Linked DNA regions of Homo sapiens: regions 1 and 3 are each linked to region 2. Evidence: fine-mapped expression QTL. A gene starts in region 2. Each other region holds a variant in brackets. All regions are shown on one strand. Distances are from middle to middle. Region 1 overlaps EFHC1 (EF-hand domain containing 1). Region 2 holds the start of EFHC1 (EF-hand domain containing 1). Region 3 overlaps EFHC1 (EF-hand domain containing 1).

Region 1 (8,170 bases), 35 kb before region 2:
CTATTGATCCTGTCACCCAAATAGTGAACACAGTACCTGATAGGTAGTTCTTCAACCCTTGTCCCTCTCCCTTACTTCTTCCTTTTGGAGTCCCCAGTGTCTATTGTTCCTGTCTTTGTGTCCATGTGTATACCCAATGCTCTGTTTCTGTGTTAATTCACTTAGTATAATGGCCTCTACCTGCATCCACGTTGCTGCAAAGAATATGATTTTATTTTTTATGGCCATATAGTATTCCATGGTGTATATGTACCATTAACACATTTTCTTTATCCAATCCACCAGTGATGGGCACCTGGGTTGATTCCATGTCTTTGCTATTGTGAACAGTGCTGCAATAAACATGAATACAAGTATCTTTTGGATACAACAATTTATTTTCTTTTGGGTATATACCCAATAATGGGATTGGTGTAGTTCTACTTTTGGAGAAATCTCCAAACTGTTTTCCTCAGGGGCTGAACTAGTTCACATTCCCACCAACAGTGATAAGCATTCCCTTTTCTCTGCAAGCTTGCCAACATCTGTTATTTTTTGACTTAATAATAGCCATTCTGACTGGTATGATTGCATCCCTCTGATGATTAGTGATGTTGGGCATTTTTAAAATGTTTGTTGTCCATTTGTATGTTTTCTTTTGAGAAGTGTCTGTTCATGTCCTTTGCCTACTTTTCAATGGGGTTATTTGTTATTTTTCTTGTTGATTTAAGTTCCTTATAGATTCTGGATATTAGACATTTGTCAAATGCATTGTTTCAAATATTTTCTCCCATTCTGTAGGCTGTTTCCTCTGTTGATAGCTTCTTTTGCAATGCACAAGCTCTTTAGTTTAATTAGGTCCCAATTGTCAATTTTTGTTTTCATTACATTTGCTTTTTTTTTCCCCCTGCTCTGAGACAGGGTCTCACTCTGTCGCCCAGGTCTATGATCCATTTGGGGTTAACTTTTATGTATGGTGAGGTAAGGGTTGAAGTTTATTTATTTATTTACTTTTGCATAGGCTATTGAATTGTTCCAGCACCTTTTGTTAAAAAGACAATCATTTCTCCACCAAATTGCTTTTTTACCTTTGTCAAAAATCAAATGACCTCATATGTGTGCATCTATTTCTGGACAATTTGTTCTATTTCATTGATCTGTATGTTGATCTCATCAGATTGTAAAGTCTTTGAGATATGGGGCTTATAGTAGTTTCAGATCTCCATTGCCTAGCATGGTGTTTCCTTCATCTATATGGATGTTCGATTAATATTATTCGAATGACTGAGTGAGCCAACAAAGATGCACAGAAAGTGAGGAAATACATTCAACTTTCTGGAACACTAAAGGTCTAAGGGGTGTTCAAGATTCATCTAACAGGCAAGGGCAAGATCAAACTATGAAAGCCAGTCTGAAGGATAACTAACATATTTAGACTTTCAGAACCTGGTTCCTTGGGTTCAAGAGCTGAGTAGAAAGCTTTTGTTAAGTCAAAAGATGTCCTGTTTTGATATTACCTGCCACCTATTGGTAATATGCAATTGCCCTTGACGAAGAAATAACTTTCTGAATTTCTGATATTTTAACTCCATCCATTATAAATATATAATTTTGATTTATCTTAGCTACTTAAAAGGAGGCCCTGGTTGAGAGGACTTCTGAAAGTTACTCCCATAATTTCCTATTACTGTCTAATACAAACTCTCTGCCTAGCCACCATCTCTTGGGCGCCCCCAAACATGCCATACTTGTTCCTAATTCCCAACTTTTGCTCTTGTTCTTCTTTCTAGTGAGCTCTTTGTTCTCTGCCATTCTAAATCTGAGTCTAATCCCAGCTCTTCCACAAAGACTTCTTTAGTTTTTCAGGCCCACACCTTTGTCCTTCTGACCTCGGTCTGCATGACTTAACTAATTACATAATCAGATAATCTGGTATACTCATGTTATTACTTAACAGCTTTGTGTATTTTATATGCCTTGTCTTCTTAATGACACTAGAAATGACTGAAAGATAGGATTCTAGGAATGGGAGTTACATTTTGTCCTCCATAGCATTTAGCATGTGAAATGGTTCCCATAGCAGATTATTTACCTCTTGTTTAATTGAATTTAATAAAAATCACCCATTGGATAAATGCCTTTGAGAGTCAATTAGACATCATTCTTTTAACACTACCCTTCTAGTTAAAGGAATTATGTAGCTGATGGGAACATAGCCTTTTCTGTACCTCATGACTGATACCTTTTTTCTTTTTTTGAGATGGAGTCTTGCTCTGTTGCCCAGGCTGGAGTGAAGTGGCGCAATCTCCGCTCACTGCAGCCTCTGTCTCCTGGCTTCAAGCAATTCTCCTGCCTCAGCCTCCTAAGTAGCTGGGACTACAGGCACCTGCCACCATGCCCAGGTAATTTTTGTATTTTTTAGTAGAGAGGGGGTTTCACCATGTTGGCCAGACTGGTCTCGAACTCCTGACTTCAGGTGATCCTCCCACCTTGGCCTCCCAAAGTGACGGGATTATAGGCTTCGGCCACAGCGACCAGCCTGTTTCCTACTTTTTAAAAGAACCCTATATATGCCACCAGGCTGCCTCTCCATGCAACTTTGATAAAAAATTTTTAATTGGGAAATTATAGAAGAGGATAATTATATATTAAGTTTTCAATATAGGTCACATTGATAAAGCAGAGACAAACCTGGAATCTGTCATTTAAAGGGATTTAGTTTCAGTGAGACTTTTCATGCCACCCTGAATATATTCCTATCCATTTTCTTTATCTATTGTAAATCTAATGTTTGTTAGCTCCGAACTGCATGGATTTCAGGCTTGTTTAAGCATTCTGAAAGGCCAAAATTACTATATTAGTCCCATTGTCATTGAACTCTAAGACGGTTCTGTAGAGAACTGATTATAAGAATATGTATAGTAGGTAGAAGCCAAACTATGTTGAACTAGGGCACAGATCCAGTTGTTTCTATTTGAGAATACAAGCTGAATTAGCAGTATTTTCATTTTTTTAAAAAAATATATAACATAAACTTTCCTAATTCTAAAATGATGACAATTTTCACTCCCTTTTATCCTTTTCCCCAATCTCATTCTCCTCTCCTCACATGCAATCATTCTAATGCAGCTATGTGACTGAATGTGTCCTACGTGTACTATGTTTTGCATGTGTTATAGCATTATATATCTAATTTCATGTATTTTTTCCTACACAGCACTATGTTTTTAAGATCCATCCACTTGCTTTCTGTGTACATCTTGTTTACTG[C/T]TTCTAACTACTGTATATTAATCAAAATGTACCTTCACTACATTTTTGCTTATCCATTCTCTCAATGATGGAAACCTCCAACTCCTTGCCCACAAATAATACTGCATTTTTCATAAAAAAGCACTGTGCAAGTGAAGCAATATGTACAGACACGTTGAATTTAGCCTCAGACTACACATTTATTTATAACCTCTAATGTAGACAAACTTCTTGCTCAATACCTGAAATTTCTTTTTCTTTTTTTTTTTGAGATGGAGTCTCACTCTGTCACCCAGGCTGGAGTGCAGTGGCACGATCTTGGCTCGCCACAACCTCCACCTCCCGGGTTCAAACAATTCTCCTGCCTCAGCCTCCTGAGTAGCTGGGACTACAGGTGCACGCCACCACGCCCAGCTAATTTTTTGTATTTTTAGTAGAGATGGGGTTTCACCATGTTAGCTAGAATGGTCTCGATCTCCTGACTTCATGATCCACCTGCCTTGGCCTCCCAAAGTGCTGGGATTACAGGTGTGAGCCACCGTGCCCAGCCCCAATACCTGAAATTTCTTATATCCTAATTCCCAAAAAATATAGTAAAAAGAAAAAAAAATCAGTGAACACATTTACAGAATCCTGTCAGCCACCCAAACATAAGAGCTATCAGTCATTACATGTGACCAAGATGACATTATTCTAAGAGAAATGTAAAAACTACTAAGACAATAACTAAAGCAAGCCTACTCATCCCAGGAAACAGTGAACAGCAGGTATTTGCTGCCATTTTGTTGCACTGCCACTCTCAAATATGGTAGGTAACTTTTTTTCTTTTTCTGGAGATAGGATCTCACTGTTGCCCAGGCTGGAGTGCAGCACCACAATCACAGCTCACCGCAGCCTCGACCTCCCAGGCTCAGATGATCCTCCCACCTCAGCCTCCCAAGTAGCTGGGAATACAGGTGTGCGGCACCAAGCATGGCTAATTTTTGTATTTTTTGTAGAGAGGAGGTTTCATCACGTTGCCCAGGCTGGTCTCAAACTCTTGGGCTCAAGCAATCCACCCGCCTCAGTCTCCCAAAGTGCTGGGATTACAGGAGTGAGCCATCATGCCCAGCCCATGCTAGGTAATTTTAAACCAGTAAAGAATGAGCTGGGTTTGACACAATGGACCTCACCTCTATGAGTCACAGACATGCCTTTTCCAATCTCAAGTTAAACCACATAGAAACTTCCTGTTTAGGAAGTAGTTGAAGTGAGAAGCAAAGTCAGGAAAGCATATAAAGAAAAGCTAAGCTTTCATTCATATCCTTGAATGAAAACAAGCCTGTTTGAAAAATGCATTAAAAATCTAATATTAAATTGTTTCAGTTCAGAAACCTTGCTCTGCTGCACTTTAAATAAATCTCCCACTGTTGTTTTGGTTTTGTTTCCTTGACCTGGGTACCAGACTGTCTTGGGGGCACGCCTGGACCGAGGGGCAAGTAAAGGAGGAAAGCTGTGGGAAGCCATTTTCTGAGCATCTAAGCAAAAATAGCTAGAGGCTTCCAAGTATAAACGAATTTTGCATACTGATTAAGTAACTCCTTTAAGAACCTAAAAACATCCCAAGTAACAGAGAATAAACTGAATCAAACATACTTGCATTTTCCACCAAAACTTTGGGCACACGCTGGCGGTTCATTAGGAGTGGGAAAGGATCTCTCCCATCATTCCGTTCGTGGACCTCTCGAATTTCCACCGTATCATCCATAAGATAGTAATGAATGATGTAGGTCCGACATTCACCATACATGCTGTCTGTATCATCCCAGATTGCATAGAATCGAAGGACCTTTGAAGAATCCAAAGTAGTGACTCAAGAATCCTAAAAGTAGGGAGTTCAACTTGGCTACTTTGGCAATTATGTATCAACGATGGAAAGACTAGCTGGAAAGACTATGAAGTAATTTCAGATGGGGTAAATTGAAAAAAAAAGAAATATTCATCAAACATACTAAAACATCTGAAATTATGTACTATATGTCAGCAGCTGGAAAGAATTAAATAATAGGATTATAAGTTTGTGCCAAAAAAGAAGAGCTCACTTTGATCCAAAATATTAGTCAGTGAAAGAGAAGCTAAATTAAAAGAGCAATGAAGTTCTTTACATAGTGGTATATATATATTAATAAAGGTACATGTGAATATGGTTTATATATAATTAGTGTAGAAAAAATTTTTATTTATTAACCAGTCTTTTTTTGGTCCCATCAACACATATCTTCTAGCAATAATATAAACACAATCTTTTTTTTTTTTTTTTTGGCTAGGCTTCTTCAAATCGTGGGAATAAACACAATCTTTAAATACAAAATAATAACAGATATATGACTGATATGAACAAAATCCTTAAAAGACCATGCTAGTGCTAGTTTACATTTTCTGAACTAAAAGGGGTTAAATGTCTAAAGAAAAGGAGCAGCAAAGAAGCACTGAGGGTGATCTCTTCCTTTTCTTTCTCCCTTTAGTACAGAAAGGGAAGGATTTAAATCTGCTTATACACATCAGCTCACAAGGGAGAGGATTAGGAAGGTTGGAACAGAGTTGGAAAATGCTCAGAACATTCTGGACTCCAATATTAATATAACATTTAACAAGGAAGCATCTGTAGTGGGGCTTCTGTGAAATTAAACATTTTAACATTACAACCTACATGTATGCATATTTGTGAAATTTCCTAATAATCGATTTATGGTTTCACAAAGGAGTCTATGAAATTAGCTCATTTTAAGGGAAAGAAATTGTCAATTGGAAACGTAAGGTGGGAAGCAGATGTAGCTCAGGAATTGCTTTGAGATTTAAATGTTTGGTGAGGTTCACAAAACAACTCCGCAACTCCACGATCTTCTTTGGATCTCCATATGAAATGTAGGCATTCCTGTACCTGTAACCCTTGATGAAAGCAGAAAGACAGTACTGTGTCCAAACAGTTCAATTATAGCTGTAATGTTTCAAAATAGTTACCAATACAGCTACCCAAACCTTTTGCCAATAAATGTAGGTCACATTTGGAAATAAGTAAGCCTATTGTGGTTCCTATGTCACTTACCTGTTTGTCAAAGGTGAGAAATTGCTTGAGTTGATCAAAGTCTGATGGGGTGACATACTTACGAAGAGGCTGTTTTCGGAGTTCAGTGTAAGGATCAAGAGCCATCTTCTCTGGTGGATTTAACTCAATTCCTTGGCTTTCTAAAAATACCTAAATAATTGAAAGTTAACAATGATCATCTTTCTTGGAGCTTTTCAGAGTAAGTTATAAACTGATTATATAAAAATAAGTGTATGGGCCAGGCACTGTGGCTCAGGCCTACAATCTCAGCACTTTGGGAGGCTGAGGTAGGAGGACTCCTGAAACGCAGGAGTTCACAATCAGCCTGAGCAACATAGTGAGACCCTGTTTCTACAAAAACATTTAAAAGTTAGACTGGTTTGATGGCATTTGCCTGCAGTCCAGGCTACTCAGGAGGCTGAAGTGAGTAGACTGCTTGAGCTCAGGAGGTCAAGGCTGCAGTGAGCCATGATCATGACACTGCACTCCAGCCTGCGTCACAGCAAGACCCCGCCTCAAATAAAGAAAAAAAGAAAGAAAAAGTGTAATAATGATTTCTATGCCATTGCTTAAGTTAAACATTAGTTTGCTGCTTGAGCGCATGTAAGCTGTATTAAGTCTCCAACTGAGCCAACTCCATAATGCAGGTAATAATTGAGAGTTACCTGAAGTATTTTATATTGTTATATTGCTAGGTATTTGCTAAGCTAGTTGGGAGGCACAATGGCAAAATAACTGTTTTCAAATAATTTAAATCAATCAAATTTAGTTAGGTGCCTGTAACAGAGTAAGTCTTAGGATTGCTTACTTTCATATATCTGGAACCTAACCATGGTTTCAAACAATATGTAATTCCTATTAGGTCTGGAGGCAAGATGCACAATGGCCAAGTTAGGCTGAAATCATATTCCCAATTTTCTAATTCACTTAAAACAAATACTGTATATGATTAAGTCCCTTCCCCTCACCAAAAAAGAAAAAAAAGAAAGCATACCCACTGGTTATATTAGACCAGAAAACGTGTTAGCAAAATAGGAAAGACAAACCAAGTGCTCAAATTTCACCAGACATTCCTGAAAGGGACAGTGAGAAAGCAAACAACTTGGAAAACATATTTCAGGATATTGTCCACAAAAACCTCCTCAACCTCGCTAGAGAGGCCAACAATCAAATTAAGGAAATACAAAGAATCCCTGCAAGATTCTATGCAAGGAGATCATCCCCAAGCCACATAATCATCAGATTTTCCAAGGTCAAAATGAAAGAAAGAATGTTAAAAGCAGCTACAGAGAAAGGGCAGGTCACGTACAAAGGGAACCCCATCAGGCTAACACTGGACTTCTCAGCTGAAACCCTATAAGCCAGAAGAGATTGGGGGCCTATATTCAACATTCTTAAAGAAGAAAAATCTTCAACCAAGAATTTCATATCTAGCCAAACTAAGCTTCTTAGCAAAGGAGAAATAAGATCCTTTTCTGATAAGCAAATGCTGACAGAGTTCATTACCACCAGACCTGCCTTACAAGAGATCTTAAAAGGAGCACTAAATATGGAAAGAAAAGGCCATTACCAGCCAATACAAAACACACAAGTACACAGACCAGTGACACTATAAAGCAACCACACAAACAAACCAGCATAATAACCAGCTAACAACACAATGACAGGATCAAATCTACACATATCAACACTAATCTTAATTATAAATGGGCTAAAGGCCCCATTTAAAAGGCACAGAGGCCAGGCATGGTGGCTCATGCCTGTAATCCCAGTACTTTGGGAGGCAGAGGTGGGTGGATCACTTGAGGTCAGGAGTTTAGGACCAGCCTGGCCAACATGGTGAAACCCAGTCTCTGC
Region 2 (8,189 bases):
GAACTACTTTACTCCCTGTAATCAGCTTCCTGACTAAAGAAAGCCTCTTTTTAGCCTGAGTTCAGCTGTCCATGACTAAGGGTTAAGGCATCTGAACAATTTTCTCCTCAGAGCCCTTTGGAAATTCTGTGGTTTACTGTTTTAACTTTTTTGCAAGCAGTTGGCTCTCAGACCCTAATTCAAGGGGTACCCTAAAATTCCAGATGATACCTTTTTGTCAAAGGCCACATGCGCAGGAATAAAATCCGCAGGTGGGGCTTGTTTAGGTTGGCCATAAGTTAAGACTGGTGCCTTACTGGCCAACTCATCCAGCTCAGCCTGGGACAGCTGGTTGAACTGGAGCCGGTCTCCGCCTATCCCAACTGTTGGACGTCGAACAATTGCATAGCCGTTCCTGTAGCTCAGCGTCTGACTTCTGTGGAAGGCTGTTTTCTGAAGAAGAAAAGAATGTGTCATTAATAACATTAGACAAATATTTGTTAGGTAAAAAAAAAACTAACTTTTAAAAATATAACTTGAATCTTTGCTTATAAGCATCACAAAACTTACATCAAGAAGCTTACCAACATTAAGGCTGGGCATGGTGGCTCGTGCCTATAATCCCAGAACTCTGGGAGGCTGAAGAGGGAGAATCACTTCAGCCCCAGAGTTCGAGACCAGCCTGGGCAACAAGATGCTGTCTCTACAAAAACTAAAAAAAAAAAAAAAAAAAAAAAAAAATTAGCTGGGTGTGGTGGCTTGTGCCTATTATAGTCGGCTGAGGTGGAAGGATCACTTGAGCCTGGGAGGTCCAAGCTGCAATAAGCTATGATTGAACCACTGCACTCCAGCCTGGGCAACAGTGAGACTCTGTCTCAAAAAAACAAAACAAAACAAAAGCTTACCTACATTAAAAGATTCTGTATTTTAAGTTAAAACACTTGAACAAGAACAAGGAGCGAAGTAGCCACCTAAGCTTAAAGTAAAATTTAAAGCTGTGCTCTGTAATGCCCAATTTAACTACCAATTCACCTTGCATGAGAGATTAAAAGAGTATCTCATCTATACTCTTAAGTTTTTCACTAGTCTTCTCATGTTTTTCATCTGATATCTGGGGCCGTAAAAACTGTAGAACCTAGAAGATACGGTTCTGTGAATTTTATTTTTACATGGAATGAATTTATTTTTACCTGTCCCTCTTGTCACAATGACAGTGATACATTCTTACAACTCTTTGGAAAGCAACTGGATGGTATATATTTAAAGTCTTGAACTCAATAATTCTACCCCGACCATTTATTTACGAATATGATTCAGAATTATGAGAAAGAACTATATGCCTGAAGCTGCCCATTACAATGGTAAATGTTGAAGACAATCTAAAAGACAGTCATATGAAGACATGAGTAAATGATCGAAAACTCACTCAATGGATTATGGTGCTGTCATTAAAATATTGATTTTAGAGATCACGTGGCAACCTGGTGAAAATATTTATGATTTAATAAGCCTGAAAAAGCAACATATAAAATTATATGTGTACTGCAATTATAAGCATGGAAATATGTGCATGAAGAGACTGGTTTGGTCCTCTGTATTATACATTTCTAAATTATGTTGATTTTTTACAATGAACACATTTTTATTTAAAAGATTAAATAAAAAAGAGTAGAAAGGCAAATTAGAGGTTATGTTAATGGTTTCCTTTTTCTGTTGTGAGGATACTTTCACAATTACTTATCTATAATATTCAAATATATACATAGATACAATTTAAGATTAATCATAAAAAATATTTTTATGAAAAAAACTTTCTACATCCTAATTGCTTTAGAGCCCAGCCTACCATCTTTCAAGATCTGTACTAACATGAAAGGTACAACAGAATAAACTTCTTTTGCTAAAAGGGTTATAAACTGTATATAACCCATAAAAACAAATGTATGACATTTGTTTTTAAAGGTCATGTATTCAGAGTCACAAGTCAGTTGACAGGGACTGCTCCAGGTATATAGTAAACATGACATAGAACAAAATGCGCTGAGTTGACATCCTCATTGGGTAATTTATGGAACTTCAAGCTCTTCTTCCACCACCAAAGACAGAAGCAACATCAGTGACTTCAGTTTATTTCTTTGTTTTAGACAAATGTCTCTACCATCATTCAGCCATAACTCACAGACACCCCAGGCAAGGCAACCTCGGCCCTTTCCACCCCTCTTGTCCATTATGGTTCACCTTCTGTGTGTCTTTTTTTAAAATCGTTTTCCCACTCCCCTTTAAAAATTTTTTAACTTCTTATCTGCATGTCTTTAGAATTACATTAATACATATTCAGTCCTTCACTGCTGAAGATATACTGACGATGCTTTTCAAATTTCAAATAGGGCAAATTGGTTGACACTTGGCCAGTGTATTTAAAATCTGAAATATGTCCAATGCACAGTTCTTCTTACTTGTAATACAGCAATATGTTTTTAGAGCTTTGCACTTCCATCCACACCTCTGTAATTCCCTGTATCAACTCAGCCCTGTCTATACTCACCAACACCAAAAGCTTAAGCTCATCCTGTATAGGGCAGGCAAGTGCCTACAACATTTTCTAAATTACATAAAACTGAAAAGTCCACTGAAACTAAAAATCTATGATGTTGTGTCTTAATGCAGGGATAATTACAGAGATTCAGAATACAAATTCTCTCACCAAACTTTCGATTTCATTCTAAATTGATTCTTCCAAAGAAAATAAATTGACAAAATATTTTAACTTTGTGAAGCTGGAGAGGAAGGCAAGAGTTTAAAGTATTAAACTATATAAACATAAACTACTGTTAGCTCATCTATGATGATCAGTCTACTGAATCTCATTATTGATTTTTCAGCACATACATTTCAGTAGCCCTGTCAGAATTAAAACAAACCAAATAATTTTAAGAGCTAAACTGTGGCAAGAGTTTAAAAAAAAAAAAGAATCCAAGCTGCTGCTACTTTTTAAAAAATTTTGTCTAGAAAATGCAAATAAAAACACAAGGTTGGGGAAGGAGCAAAACAAAATCTAAACAGGAATCTTTTTACAAAAACGTTAGAATAAAAAGAACAGGGCCGGGGAAGAATAAACAGCAACTAATCAATTCTTGAGGGAACTGGAAAGGAATATCTCTTACAAAGCAGGGAAAGATGCTTTGGGAGGAAGGTGAGCAAGTTTTGGGGAAAACCCGCAACGGAGAAAGAAAGGAATGGGGAGAGGATGGGACTAAATTGTGGAAAATGTAGAAGATGGAGAAAAAAGAATGGGGTTGGATGCAAGCATAAAGAAGAAAGGAAAAAGACCTGGCGGAAAGAAGAGGAGCGGAATCGATATACATACAAAACAGGAAATGGAGCTGGGAGTGGGAGATACTACCGGGTACAGGATTCAGAAGAGGAAGAGGTGGGGCGGGAATGACGGACCTGTGGGAATGAGGTTGAAGGTGCATAGTGGCGGGGGGTTTTAAGGGCGGCGATGGACGGAGACAGGTTATGATGTGAGAGAACGAGCTAGGGAGAGGGCCCAGAGATAGGTTGGGAGTAGGGTGGGGGAAACAGTGATCTAAAGGGACAAGAGGCAGGGGCTTGGAGGAGCAGGGCCGTAAGAAAGAACGCGGCTAACGGGATGAGAATGAAGGCGCCAACACACTGCCAAGATGGAGTGGGAAAAAACTAGAGAGGGATGAGGCGGAGGGCAAAGGATCGGAGAGAGGGGATGAGGATGGCTAGGGAAGAACGGCAGAAGTTCGGCCCAGAATAAAGAACAGGGTCAGGACAGAAGACGTGTTTGGAGAGAAGACAGACTTGAGTGGAGGGGAATGGAGGTGCACTGAGCGGGGAAACCTCCTGGGCTGCTGGAAGGTGGGGACAGGTGGGAGTCTGGCAGATAACTGCTCACCGTAGAGTCCTTAAAGGACGTGCCCGGAAGAAAGGGCAAGCCATGCACGGGATTGGACACCATTGCAGCCGGTACCACCGCCGCCACCTAGGTCCTGCTTCGTCCTCTCCGGTTGCCCAGGCGACAAGCAGTGTTCGCGGGCACCTCCAGGATCCATGGTAACGCTAAACATCCGGAACTCCCACGAGCGGAAGGCGGGGCCAGGAGGCGCAGGCATCACAGGAGGTTTGCGCGTGCGCCATCCGCAGGACTCCGCGTTCTCGCGGTAAGTGGGCCGCGGCCTTGGAGCGCGGCTAGTGGGCGTGGTTGTGTCGGCCCCTCCTCTTCCGCTTCGCCCCGCCCCGCTCCCGGAGGATGAGACGTGGGAGCTGTTGGGTGGCGCGGGGAAAGGCGGGTGTAGCGAGGCGGTAGTTCTCGCTGTGAGATCCGGGGTCCGAGCAGGCCCTTAGATGAGTTGCAGAGAGGGACGTTCCTTCTCTCCTTCCACCTAGTCCTGGCGGACCTCACTGCGCCCCGCCAACGCTGTGAGCTCAGGCACTCTTTTCTCCCCCCTCTGCCCCATTTCACACAGAAGTGTAAATGGTCGGTCCAGTTGGCAGTGCTACTAAACTAGACCCATGCTTCTTGTAGGCAGGGGCCGAGGATTACCCATGATTGTGTTTCTGTTGCTCAGGGATGGTCAATGAACTAATGCAATCATCTCATCCTTAATTCTCCCACTGCCACATTGTATTTTTCCCCTTTTAACTCTTTTTTAAAATCAATCTTTCTCTTTCTTTCTTTCCTTTCTTTCTTTCCTTTCTTTTCTTTTTCCTTCCTTCCTTCCCTCCTTCCCTCCGTCCCTCCTTCCCTCCTTGCTTCCTTCCTTCCTTCCCTACTTCCCTCCTTCCGTAGAGATAGTGTCCCACTATGTTGCCCAAGCTGGTCTCGAATTCCTGGGGTCAAGCGATCCGCCCACCTCGCCTCCCAAAGTGCTGGGATTACAGGCATGAGCCACCGCGCCCAGCTCTCTTTATTCTACCATCAATCCCTTCGGTTAAACACCTTTGTTTTTGTAGGGAAAGCCTTGAATATGTGCTGCAGGGCAGGGTGCACTCTGATAGGTACTTGATTTTTGTTGACTGAAGAGCTGCAGGTTGAAGGGTGGTCACCTCAATCCCTCGTTTGTACCTGCAGCTGCAATGAAAAAGATCAGAACCACTAGGAGGAACACAGCTCCTTCAAAGAGAAAGACTAAGTCTTGGGAAAGAAGCAGATAAGTGAGGTGAAATATTGTCAGCATCATAGGTATAGCCTTTGATGCTTTTTACAAAACTTGCTTAAATTATTTTTTCTTAAAAGAAACATAATCCTATTCCTGAAACATTTTTTTTGGGGGGGGGGGGAGAAAGCTATCCATCATTGCTGAGGAGCTTAAAAATAAAAAGTAATCAAAACCCACGTGCCGAGAGATTTGGATTCATTAGGTCTGACATGGAGGCCAGGAATCTGATTTTTGTAACAGGCGTTTGTGACAAGCCAGTTTAGGAACATGATAGAGTAATAAGCCAGACACAGAAGGCATATCTCAGTGTCACAGGTAGTTTACTGCCAATACAGACAGCAGCTTTACTTTTATTGCTGCTTGTCAGAGCAAATCCCCCTGTTGGGTTTCACTAATTTGTGTGACGCTCAGGAGGCCCAGGACATGAATGCATTAAGTGGCACCTGAGGCAGTTATTGATGCCTGCTTACCATACCCTGCCCAGAGAGTTTCCTTTCTAACTCTTCTCCCCTTACTACATCTGTTTCCTGTTCTTGTCCTTTTTTAAACCTCTTTTTCTTTTTCTGTAAGTACATTACCTTAATGCAGCAGTTTAATACATTTTTTAAAAACTTCAATGAAGTTTTTTTGCCTTTGGTGCTTTTTACAAAACTTGCTTATTTTTTAAAAAAATAAATGTAATCATATTCCTCAAACATTGGTTAGCATTGTGGAAGTTACTGAAAACTTTTAAAGTACCTGTCCGTTGTATTATACCTTAGACACCAACTGAGGATGGATGCCAGTCACTGGAGGAATATGTCAAGATGGCAAGTTTGCTGGGTGCGGTGGCTCACGCCTGTAATCCCAGCACTTTGGGAGGCCGAGGCGGGTGGATCGCCTGAGGTCAGAGTTTGAGACCAGCCTGGACAACATAGTGAAACCCCACCTCTACTAAAAATACAAAATTAGCTGGGCATGGGGGCGCATGCCTGTAATCCCAGCTACTTGGGAGGCTGAGGCACGAGAATCGCTTGAACCCGGGAGGTAGAGGTTGCAGTGAGCCGAGATCGCGCCATTGCACTCCAGCCTGGGCAACAAGAGCAAAACTCCGTCTCAAAAAAAGGAAAAAAAAAAAAAAAGATGGCAAGTTTAACCTTTCAAAGATAAGGCACCTCTCCCACTTCTCTCCACCTCATTGACGCTGATTACCCAGAATCACTGGTTACTGTAATTTTTGCTGACTCTTCATGATAACCTTAAACTGTTAGAAGTTCCATGATCCCTCCCTACCCACTCTCTTATTAAAAGTAAATTTCATGGCATTAGGACACACTTTGAAGAGCTCTTCTTGACTAAGTGCATGGTTGCACTTGGATCTATATTCCTGGGTTGGGTAGGGAAGGAGCGTGTGGAGCTGGAAAGGCTGAGTCATGCCTAAGCCTATTGTCCATTATCGCATCTGTTTCTATTTGAGGAGTGCCCTCTGCTCATGCCTTTCTTTCCAGAAAAGCACGCCAGTTAAATGGCTAAGGGGTGTGTTTTAACTACTTTCGGACCCCAGAAATGCATGAAGACAACTTCTGTTGGTCTATGGCCTCCTAAAAATGCTATCATCTCTGAGGAGGGGAAGTCAGACGTACTGCATTAGTGTTAAAAGGCACAGGGACAAGTCTGTAAAGAAGTGGGGCGGGAGGAAAGGCAGGGCTTCAGAAAGGTACCTGGATCCTCAGAAGGTCTGCTGTGATTAAGAGTTTGTATCCCAGTCGGGTGCAGTGGCTCATGCCCGTAACCCCAGCACTTTGGGAGGCCAAGGTGGGCAAATCACTTGAGGCCAAGATTTTGAGACCAGCCTGGCGAAACCCCATCTCTACTAAAAATACAAAAATTAGCTGGACGTGGTGGCACATGCCTGTAGTCCCAGCTACTCAGGAGGCTGAGGCAGGAGAATCGCTTGAACCGGGGAGGCAGAGGTTGCAGTGAACAGAGATCATGCCACTGCACTCCAGTCTACATGACCACTTAGCATGCATTGCACTTCAGTTTGTACCCACCATTTCCCACTTAGTGGAATATATAAAAGAGGGCAGGAAACTGACCATTCCTGGCAGCTAAAGTAGGAAATGCCATGATTGAAAGGCCATTGCATAAAGCCTGACTCAGAAGACCACAGAAATATTGCATGATTTTAGCAGGTGTTCCAAAACTTGGGGAATGGAAAAAAATTGAAAGGTCAGACTGCCAGGAGCCAAGCCTGAAAGAGGGCCTTGTGGGCTGGGTAATGTCTTCCAGGCAATCCTGATGGGACAGGCCATAAGCAGTCAGCTAAAATAAACCTCTCCTCTTTCAGCATTTTGCCCAGAGCTGACTTTACCCAGAATTTGTTTTCAAAACTGTGACATTCTCATTCTATAATACCTAAATTCACAGGACAAAAAATACCAAAGGGCTGTGTGTGCATGTGTCCTGGATTACTTCTGCAGTGATTTGGTGTTCTGCTTCCCTCTGCTGGGTAAAAATGGTACAGCAAAATTTCTGGAAAAGAAAACAACCAATTACATACCTGCAGGTTTTGCAGGTACTTGGGGGTGTGGTGAGCACGTGAATATGGCCAGGGGGTGTCCCTCAGTCAGAGTGCTCTCTAGCATTCCTTTCCATCACTCCATGGCCTCTGAAATATTTTATCTAAAAAGAGGGCCCAGTCATCCACTTCGATCTTTGCAAAGTATGGGAAAAGGAGAAACATCCAGTGATTAGATTTAGGATCCACAGGAGATCTTCATTTGACACAAAAATTACATCATTTGGGTCTAGACTATTTTAGTCTTGATGTGGGCTCCTGCCTGGGGTTTGGAAAAACCTGTATTTCTGCTGCTTTTTCCTCCCTTAAGTCAAACCTATTCAATAGCTTTAGCTGATTCCGTTGGAATTCTCTTTCCTTGTCAAAGCTGATGGAACATACTTCACAGGATATAAGCGTCATAAGAAGATGGTCTTCATTTTTTCATTGCCATTTTCCTAACTCTCATCACAGTGCCTAGC
Region 3 (8,189 bases), 72 kb before region 2:
ATGCTCAGCTCCCTTCCACCACCTGAACCTGACACTCCAGATGCATGCCAGCTATGACTGTAGCATAAGGTAATTAGTGACATCTAATGGCTGCACTGCCATTCAGGATTTTAGTAGAAAAAGTGATTTGCTCTGACGTTTGTGGCTCCTATACTTGCTGCTTTGTATAAACAGGTGAGCAGCGAGTGTTTGGACACCACAGAAATGGCCTGCTGGCTTTGGTCTTTCATGAAATCTCTTTTATACCTTGTGTTGGTGCTGTCAGATCTCAGCTTCTCAGTCTTAAGTAAACTTAAAAGGAGATGCAAGGCAAGAAGTGGACAGCAAACTTAAGGAGTGTATGTGGACAGTGCCAACTTTATTGAAGACAGTTCCCTCTGAGACTACAGGCCTAGCTACTCAGAAGGCTGAGGCAGGAGGATTGCATGAGCCCAGGAGTTTGAGGCTGCAGTGAGCTATGGTCACACCACCGCATTCCAGTCTGGCAACAGAGTAAGACCCTGTCTCTAAAAAACAAACACAAAAACAAAACAAAACAGCCAAAAGCAGGCTAGAGGATGCTAAATGAGACTTTCCTAAATCTCCATTTTGGCTGAGACCCAAAGCTGAGGACAAAAATTGGCAAATATATCCATATGTTGCAGATTTGCTGCCGATCCATGAATGATTTGTTAAGGAGTAGCCCAAAGCTCCTCTACCACAGGAGGCAAGAGTGATGGAGAAAATATCAGAAAGTGCAAGCTTCTTGAAAGGGGCTGGAGTGCCTTGGGTCTGCAAGCTAAGTGAGGGTATACTTTAAAAGACTCAGGGTTTGACATGTGTCTGTCCCCTGGAGTTTGGAGAGCATAAGATTTGGGGTACCTGGTTCTCCCCTGAAACAGTCTAAAGGAAAGGGATTGAGCTGCCTAATTACACAGCCAAGAGAGCCATCTGGGTGAGAACATGGCGAGAGTGCACACCCTGGAAGGTGTGTCAGCCTGAAAGGGCCTCCTGGGAAGATCAGAAGGAGCCTTGGAGACCATACCATTAGAGCCGGGGTGATCAGGTACAGACTGGGTCCCGTCCATCTGAGAGTGGTGCACTGGGCAGTTTCCGGTTGGAAAGAGTTCTAAGAACTCACCAAAACGGGGCTCTGAGCAAAGGACATGGAATCAACCTAGGTGCCAATCAATGGTGGATTAGATTTTTTAAATGAAGTATATCTACACCATGGAATACTACGCAGCCATAAAAAATGAAATCATGTATTCTGCAGCAACATGGATGCAGCTGGAGGCCATTATCCTAAAGTGAATTGATGCAGGAATAGGAAACCAAATATTGCATGTTCTTACTTCTAAGTGGGAGCTAAACATTGAATACACATAGACATAATGATGGGAACAATAGACACTGGGGACTACCAGAGTGGGAAGGGAAGGAGGGGGTATGTGTGGAAAAACTACTTACTGGGCACTATGCTCACTACCTGGGTGCAATATACTCATGTAACAAACCTGCACATGTACCCCCTGAATCCAAAAAGAGAGAAAAGGTGCTCTGGGAGAAAGAGTCAGCCTTTCGGCACATGTCACTCAGACCTGGCCCCACATTACGACATTACTAGCCACAGAAATAAGACTTTGCCCTTTTTCTCTGGTTTCTACCCGCTTAACCTTTCCCAGAGCCTACATGGGCTAGAAACAGCAGCATGGCTGAATAGGAACAAAGGGAGCAGAAGACAGAAAGAAGGGAGTAAGAAGAAACCACTATCATCACCCCAGTATACACACACTCTTTACCACAGGCTTCTAAGCCTGGGGGAAGGACTGAGCTGGGCCAAGTAGGATAGAGCTTGGTAATTTTTAAGCTGAAAAAACTTCTAAAATACAGATAGTCCCCAACTTTCAATGGTCCAACTTATTTGCCTACTTTACAATGGGCTTATCAGGGTTATTAAATGTGTTTTCAACTTGTGATATTTTTTACTTACGTGAGTTTATTGAGACATAGCCCCATAAGTAGAGGAGCATCTGTACTTGAAAGAGATACTGTTTTAAATAGTTATGAGCGACTGAGGGTAAAACAAAACAAAACATGGGTTATTCCCAAGATAATAACCTGGAACAGAAAAGGAATCAACATAATACATTCACAGCCCTTTCAATAAGCTGGTTACAAGTGGCTGAGCTCGTTAGGGAAGGAAACACCAAGGGAAGTTCCCTAGAAGTTCTGAGAGGGCAAAGCAGTCTGAATTCTGTGTAACTCTATCCTCATTCATACCACATTTTGGGTGGCTTCGGGGAATTTGAGATAGCATGTTTAAAGATGAACTTAGTGGCTGACTTCAACCAAAGAGAAGCCCTGTTTGTAAAAAGCCAGTCAGAGCTCACCAGAGAATAGTAACTGCAACTAGTCTTTCCTTCCTCTCTCAAGGCCAGGCTCTCTAAAAGCAGCATTTTTCTAACCTTTTTTTTTTTGAGATGGAGTCTTGCTCTGTCACCCAGGCTGGATGGAGTGCAGTGGCGTGGTCTTGGCTCACTGCAACCTCTGCCTCCAGGGTTCAAGTGATTCTCCCATTTAAGCCTCCCGAGTGGCTGGGACTACAGGCACACGCCACCACACCTGGCTAATTTTTCTATTTTTAGTAGAGATGTGTGCACATATATGTATATACATAATATATATACACATATACATACTATATGTATACATATAAGCGTGTGTGTGTATGAATGTGTACATATAAAATATATATATATATATATATGTAGAGAGAGAGAAAGAGAGAGTTATAAGAAATTGCTCACACAATTATGAAGGCTTACAAGTCCCAAGATCTGCAGGGTAAATTGGCAAGCTGGAGACCCAGGAGAGCTAAAGGTATAATTCCAGTCTGAATCCAAAGGCCTATGACTTAGGAGAGCTGATGGTTTAGGTCCAGTCTGAAGGTCAGCAGGCTCCAGACCAACAGCTGATGTTTCCATTTGTGTCTGAAGGCAAGAAAAGGCTGATGTTCCAATTTGAAGCCAGTCAGGCAGGAGGAATTCTCTTACCTGGGGAAAGGTCAGCCTTTTTATTCTACTCATGTCTTCAAATGATTGGAGGAGGCCCACCCACATTAGGGAGGACTATCTGTTTTACTTAGTCTTCTGATTCAAATGTTTATCTCATCGAAAAATACCTTCAGAGAAACCCCCAGAATAATGAAATATCTGAGGCTGGGCACAGTGGCTCATGCCTATAATCCCAGCACTTTTGGAGGCTGAGGTGGGAGAATTTCTGGAGCTCATGAGTTTGAGACAAGTTCAGGCAACCTAGCAAGACCTTGTCTCTACAAAATAATTTTAAAAATTAGCTGGGCATGGTGGCTTGAGCCTGTTGTCCCAGCTACTGGGGAGGTTGAAGTGGGAGGATCACTTGAGCCCAGGAGTCTGAGGCTTCATAGAACTAGGATAGTGCCACCACACTCCAGCCTGTATGACAGAGTGAGATCCCATCTCTAAAAAAATTTATTTTTTTAAAAAGAAAGAAAGGAAATATTTGGGCCCCCTGTGGCCAAGTCAATTTGACACACAAAATTAGACATTGCTATACCCCTATCACCCTAAATAAGGCACCAATCTTAGATCCTATTAGATCCAATTTAGTTTCGACTTCAGTAGGAGTGAAAGAAGAACCAAAACAGAAATAAAACTTCAGGAACCCTGTAAATGCCTCTATGAAGAGTGTAAGGTGTATTTCAAAGCATAGTTCCAGTATCAAAAATTGTCTTGCATTTTCTCATCAGCAGGTCAGTTTGAGAAAGCACGAACAAAGTTATAGTAGTTAATTTTGCCTTCTCCATGAGAGCACATCCTGA[T/G]TAACTGCAGAGAGAGCAAAGAGAATAGGTGAGACAGATCTGCAGGGCTTCCGTCAGCTCAACTGCAGAGTGCGCTTATGCATAATGATCCCGAGCCTTTGTAAATCAGTTCAGAATTTTTGTATCCTCAAGTTGATTCTGAAATGATCCTGTGAACCTGGCAGGTAGGACAGACATTATCCCCATCTTACACTTAATGAAACCAAAGCTGGATGGAGTAAATGACCTTCCCTGTTGAAGGCCGAAAGAATGAGCGTCATGATCAACTCAGTATACCACTGGAGGCTCTATGAGTAAACAGTAAACTGTTTCTCATGAAAGCAGGATGTTGGCAAACTGACAAACTGCGTCTGCTGCCCAGAAGGAACGCTGAAGGCAGTCACGACCCAGGCACAAGTGTTTCTTGTGATTAGACACATCTGAAGCCTGTTAGCAATAATGTGAACCTGTGATCAATTAATCCCTGCTCTTTCTACCCAATAAATATGAAGGGCTGTAGCAGCTCGGGCGGTTGCCTTTGCTCACTAGAAGCAGGGAGCTCTCTTCTTTCCCTTCCTTTAAAATAGTTACTTTTGTTTTAAGTTTTCATTTCTGCTTTCATCTTCCTTCGTTAACTCTCGTAATGACGGTCTCAAGTAGTAACAGTAGTAATTGTCGTAGAGATGTCTCAAGTAACCGTGGCAGTCTGCCACATTTCCCAAGATTTCAGAACTAACATCCATATTTATAAAAGCACTTTTAGTTGTTTTTATATTCAAATAAAAGACTGTCCACTCAGCTCATGAGGAGTAAGACTTTTTAAATAGCAGGCTCTTGCTACCACAGCCTAACGGAAGGGTCTGGTTATGCCACTGCTCAACCTGTGTCCCTTAAAACTCGACTGTGACTGGTAACAGACTGATTTTCTGTGGTTATTTTTATAAGATGTGCAAATCTGTCCCACCCCCACTTCCCTGCTCCACTTGCCAATGACTGCCATCCCTCTCTCCCATGTCAGTTCCCACATCAGACAGTATGAAGAATTTGAAAATCAAAAGTTGGGCATGCTGTCAACCTAAAATTTGGGGAGCTAAATGTGTGTTTGGTCCACATGAACAAATACTCTTCTATCTGCCCTCCTACTCACTCCCTGCTAATGTTTCTGTCTATGAAAAATCCTCATCTCCAACCTAGTCACTAGCCCTAAACCAAACCCTTTCCTAAATGACTCTTAAATTCTGAACACCTGTTTTGGCTAAAAGATCTTTAAAAAGGCCTCAGAATCTCAATATTTTTAATCAGTAAGAATGTCTCAATGATCATAAGCCACAGTCCTTGGCATTTCTCAGGGGGACTTTGTTCTGACTTCCAAGGGAACCCTGGCTAAAGGGTTTATAATGAAGAAAAGGCATGAAAGTCCCCCTTCAACTCACTTATGAAAATTCAAGGAAGAAAACTTCCATGCCCTTCCTCCATCAGCTGCTGGCCATGCTACCACTACTGACAGATGCCACAGCCCTCCTGCAGTGGTCATGCCTTCTTTCATGCTAACCCTACTGATGGGCCAGTGTAGGTATCAGCTGTGAAGGGTATCAAAGGCTGCCAACCAGTCTGCTCTATCAACTTATCTTTGAGTCTCCCCTTGGTAGCCACCCCTCCTGGATCGTCTCTGTTGCCCTTCTTCAGTCCTGACATGTTGGTCTACTAACCACTCTGTGTTGTCCAGCCCCAGGCCCACTTAAAGAGATGCCCTGCAACAGCAATTAGAAAAGAATACCAATGCTAGAATCAACGGGCAATACCTAATCAGGACAGAATAGTAGATCTGATCTGAACATCCTAAATCTGGCCCAGTTGTAGTGAAATACACACACAATTGCCTTTAGAAAAGAATGATCAGTGCCTAGCCTCTGCAATGAACTCAGAAGAGTAATTCATACTGACCTCCTTAACCAAGGAGTCATCCACTGGGACGTTAAGCGATTCACAGATTTTAAAGAACATGTCTCTGTCCACATATCCTGAAGCTTCCTTGTCATAAATTTGAAATGCCTCACGAATGTTGTCTTTGCATGAGTGATCTTTCAGTTGCTTCTGAATTGTGTCTATTAATGCTTCCAATTCCTGCACGCCTGGATCCTTTTCAGTTTGCTTGCTGTAGAGAAAGGAAGGAAATGACTGCACATGGTATTTATTCTTGATCAGTCTCATCTCGGTGACCAAAGTTCTTACTTGATGAAATCAGGGAAGCTTCTAATCACAGCTTTGAGACTGAGCTGACCAATAACTGAACACTTGCCCACAGGCCGATAGCTGACCTCCACATCAGGAAGGCCCGACTGGGGGCAGTTTTTGAATTTCCTCCCTTCTTGCTCAGCCTCCTTTCCTGCCATCTGTTAATCACTGCATCACAAGGAGGCAAATCTAATACCACCACCATGCCAAATTTGGTATCTGTGAGAATCACATCATTGTCTCTTACTACTGTTGCAGATTAATGTTTCCTCATCTACAACTAAATGCCTGAGTGATATATATAAAGAGAGATGATAGATATAAATATATAGCTATAGATCTGTAGCCAAGAATCAACCTTTTATAGTTTTAATATTATTCCCTCTCCAATTCACACTGAATTTTGTGAAAGGTTATCTATGGAAGCTAAGAGATTGCTCTGTGAGGTAGAGTGAGAAGTTTGGGCTTAGCATTTACTGAAATTAAGAGAGAATAGTAACACAGGGTGTTGGGAAGAGAGAGGTCTAACCCTTCAAAAAACAACCACAATAAGTAGAGGCTCAATTTTTATTTCCTCTGAACATGAAGGTACAGTTATAAAATTAAAAATTTTAGAGCTGAAAGATTCCCTCATATTTCATCTTCATAAATCCTTTTAGAACAAAATGGGCCACATAAAGTCAGTAAGCATTCTTCCCTCTTTCAGTGATGAGAAAACACATTTGAAGACCCGAGTGACTGATCCCAGATCCCATGTCAGCGGCAAAACTAGCACTCACATCCCACTCCAGTTCCAACATATTCTCTCAATTATGCCCAGTCACCTCTCACTGAATTCCTCTCCTTCCGTAACTTGAAAACTATCAATCTACCATTGCTTTTCTGTATTTACTTTTCTTGCGTATAATATTTTTAAAGTTCACTGTTGCAAATAGCCTCTGTTTAACTTATTTCCCTCTTTTACCTGCTGGCAAGTCTTGCTGGGGAAGGTATAAAGTGGAATAACCTTTCAGGAAAAATTTGGAAACATGAAGCAAAAGTCCAGCAAATAATCTCAAATAATTTATCCTAAGGAAATAATCATGGGTTGTATGCAAAGATACATCTATAAGATTGTTTTGAGATAGTCTAAATGTCCAAAAATAGGGAATTAAATAATTTACACTACAATAAAGCAACAGAATAATACTGCAGCCATTGACAATGCTGCAGAAAGAGTATAAAGATATTTTTAGTGAGAAACTCAAGACATAAAAGTATGTATAGAGTGTTACCTTGTGTTATAAAAGTTGTGGGGGAATAAGAGTATATACTTAAAGTTGCTTATATTATTTAAAGAAACTCTGAAAAGATATTCAAAAAAATAAATGAAAGAGGTAGTTACCTATGGGGAGTGGAGGGTAAGAAGTGGGTACATGAAAGATGGGGTAGGAACAAAGCTTTTCCTTGGTCCCTTCATATCTGTGTCTTCAAATATTTCATTTCACAAGGGTTCATGATAGACTATCAAGTGAAAAAAGCAAAATAGTATTACAGAATTTTCCACTTTATATGCATCTTTAAAAACAAAATATTAGAAGCAGTTATCTCTGAGTTATAAGATTTTCAAAAATTTTTGTTTATTTCCATTTCTATTACCTAGATTTTTATTCCCTAAATTTTCAAATTCTGGTCATGTGTTACTTTTGTAGTAAGCCAAGAACAATAAAAATTGTTGTAATAATCCCCAATATCTAAATGCTCTCTGGCATTATTAATTATAGAAGCAGAATGTGTTTATCTGATGAATGTAATTCAAATCATATATACTAAATTATGAATGACCACCAGGGAGCTATTTTAGTGGCAGAAAGCAGTCAAACCTCAATCTTGCATGTGTTTCCAAGAACTAGAGCCATGAAACATATAAAGTTAAAATGTGATCATCCAATCATTTGGGGAAAGAGACAATAACTCTCCCTTTCCCAAAGAAGCCAGATTCCCATTCCCCTTTATACAGCAGGAAAAATACCCATGGCATCTGCTGCCTTTGAGCAAGATGGAGTAAATTCACAGATAGATGGCAATAGGTGGTACTGTTTAAGGAAGAGCTAGTTAAAGTTACAGCCCCTACTTTATTGCCAAAGCCCAAGTC

The links. PIP is the estimated chance that this variant, and not a neighbour inherited with it, causes the effect.
Region 1: its variant is the best candidate, but not a certain one, in a credible set for the expression of EFHC1 in whole blood (INTERVAL, PIP 0.69).
Region 3: its variant is the best candidate, but not a certain one, in a credible set for the expression of EFHC1 in sun-exposed skin (GTEx, PIP 0.88).

Annotation. Positions count from the first base shown.
Region 1 is chr6:52,450,981-52,459,150 of GRCh38, reverse strand. It overlaps EFHC1 (EF-hand domain containing 1), which reads right to left. Exons shown (of 11, transcript NM_018100.4): 4 at 6,314-6,463; 5 at 4,864-5,056. Among named protein-coding and RNA genes, the nearest start is that of EFHC1, 35 kb to the right of the region's middle. The variant C/T (reference allele first, on the strand shown) is at 3,250.
Region 2 is chr6:52,416,189-52,424,377 of GRCh38, reverse strand. It overlaps EFHC1 (EF-hand domain containing 1), which reads right to left and starts at 4,036. Exons shown (of 11, transcript NM_018100.4): 1 at 3,905-4,036; 2 at 211-432. The coding sequence starts at 3,967. LOC124901331 (a long non-coding RNA gene) reads left to right here and starts at 3,397. Exons shown (of 2, transcript XR_007059611.1): 1 at 3,397-4,169; 2 at 5,930-6,478. RefSeq lists an enhancer at 3,476-4,067 and a silencer at 7,493-7,787.
Region 3 is chr6:52,487,926-52,496,114 of GRCh38, reverse strand. It overlaps EFHC1 (EF-hand domain containing 1), which reads right to left. Exons shown (of 11, transcript NM_018100.4): 10 at 5,765-5,975; 11 at 1-3,845. The coding sequence ends at 3,774. Among named protein-coding and RNA genes, the nearest start is that of EFHC1, 72 kb to the right of the region's middle. The variant T/G (reference allele first, on the strand shown) is at 3,842.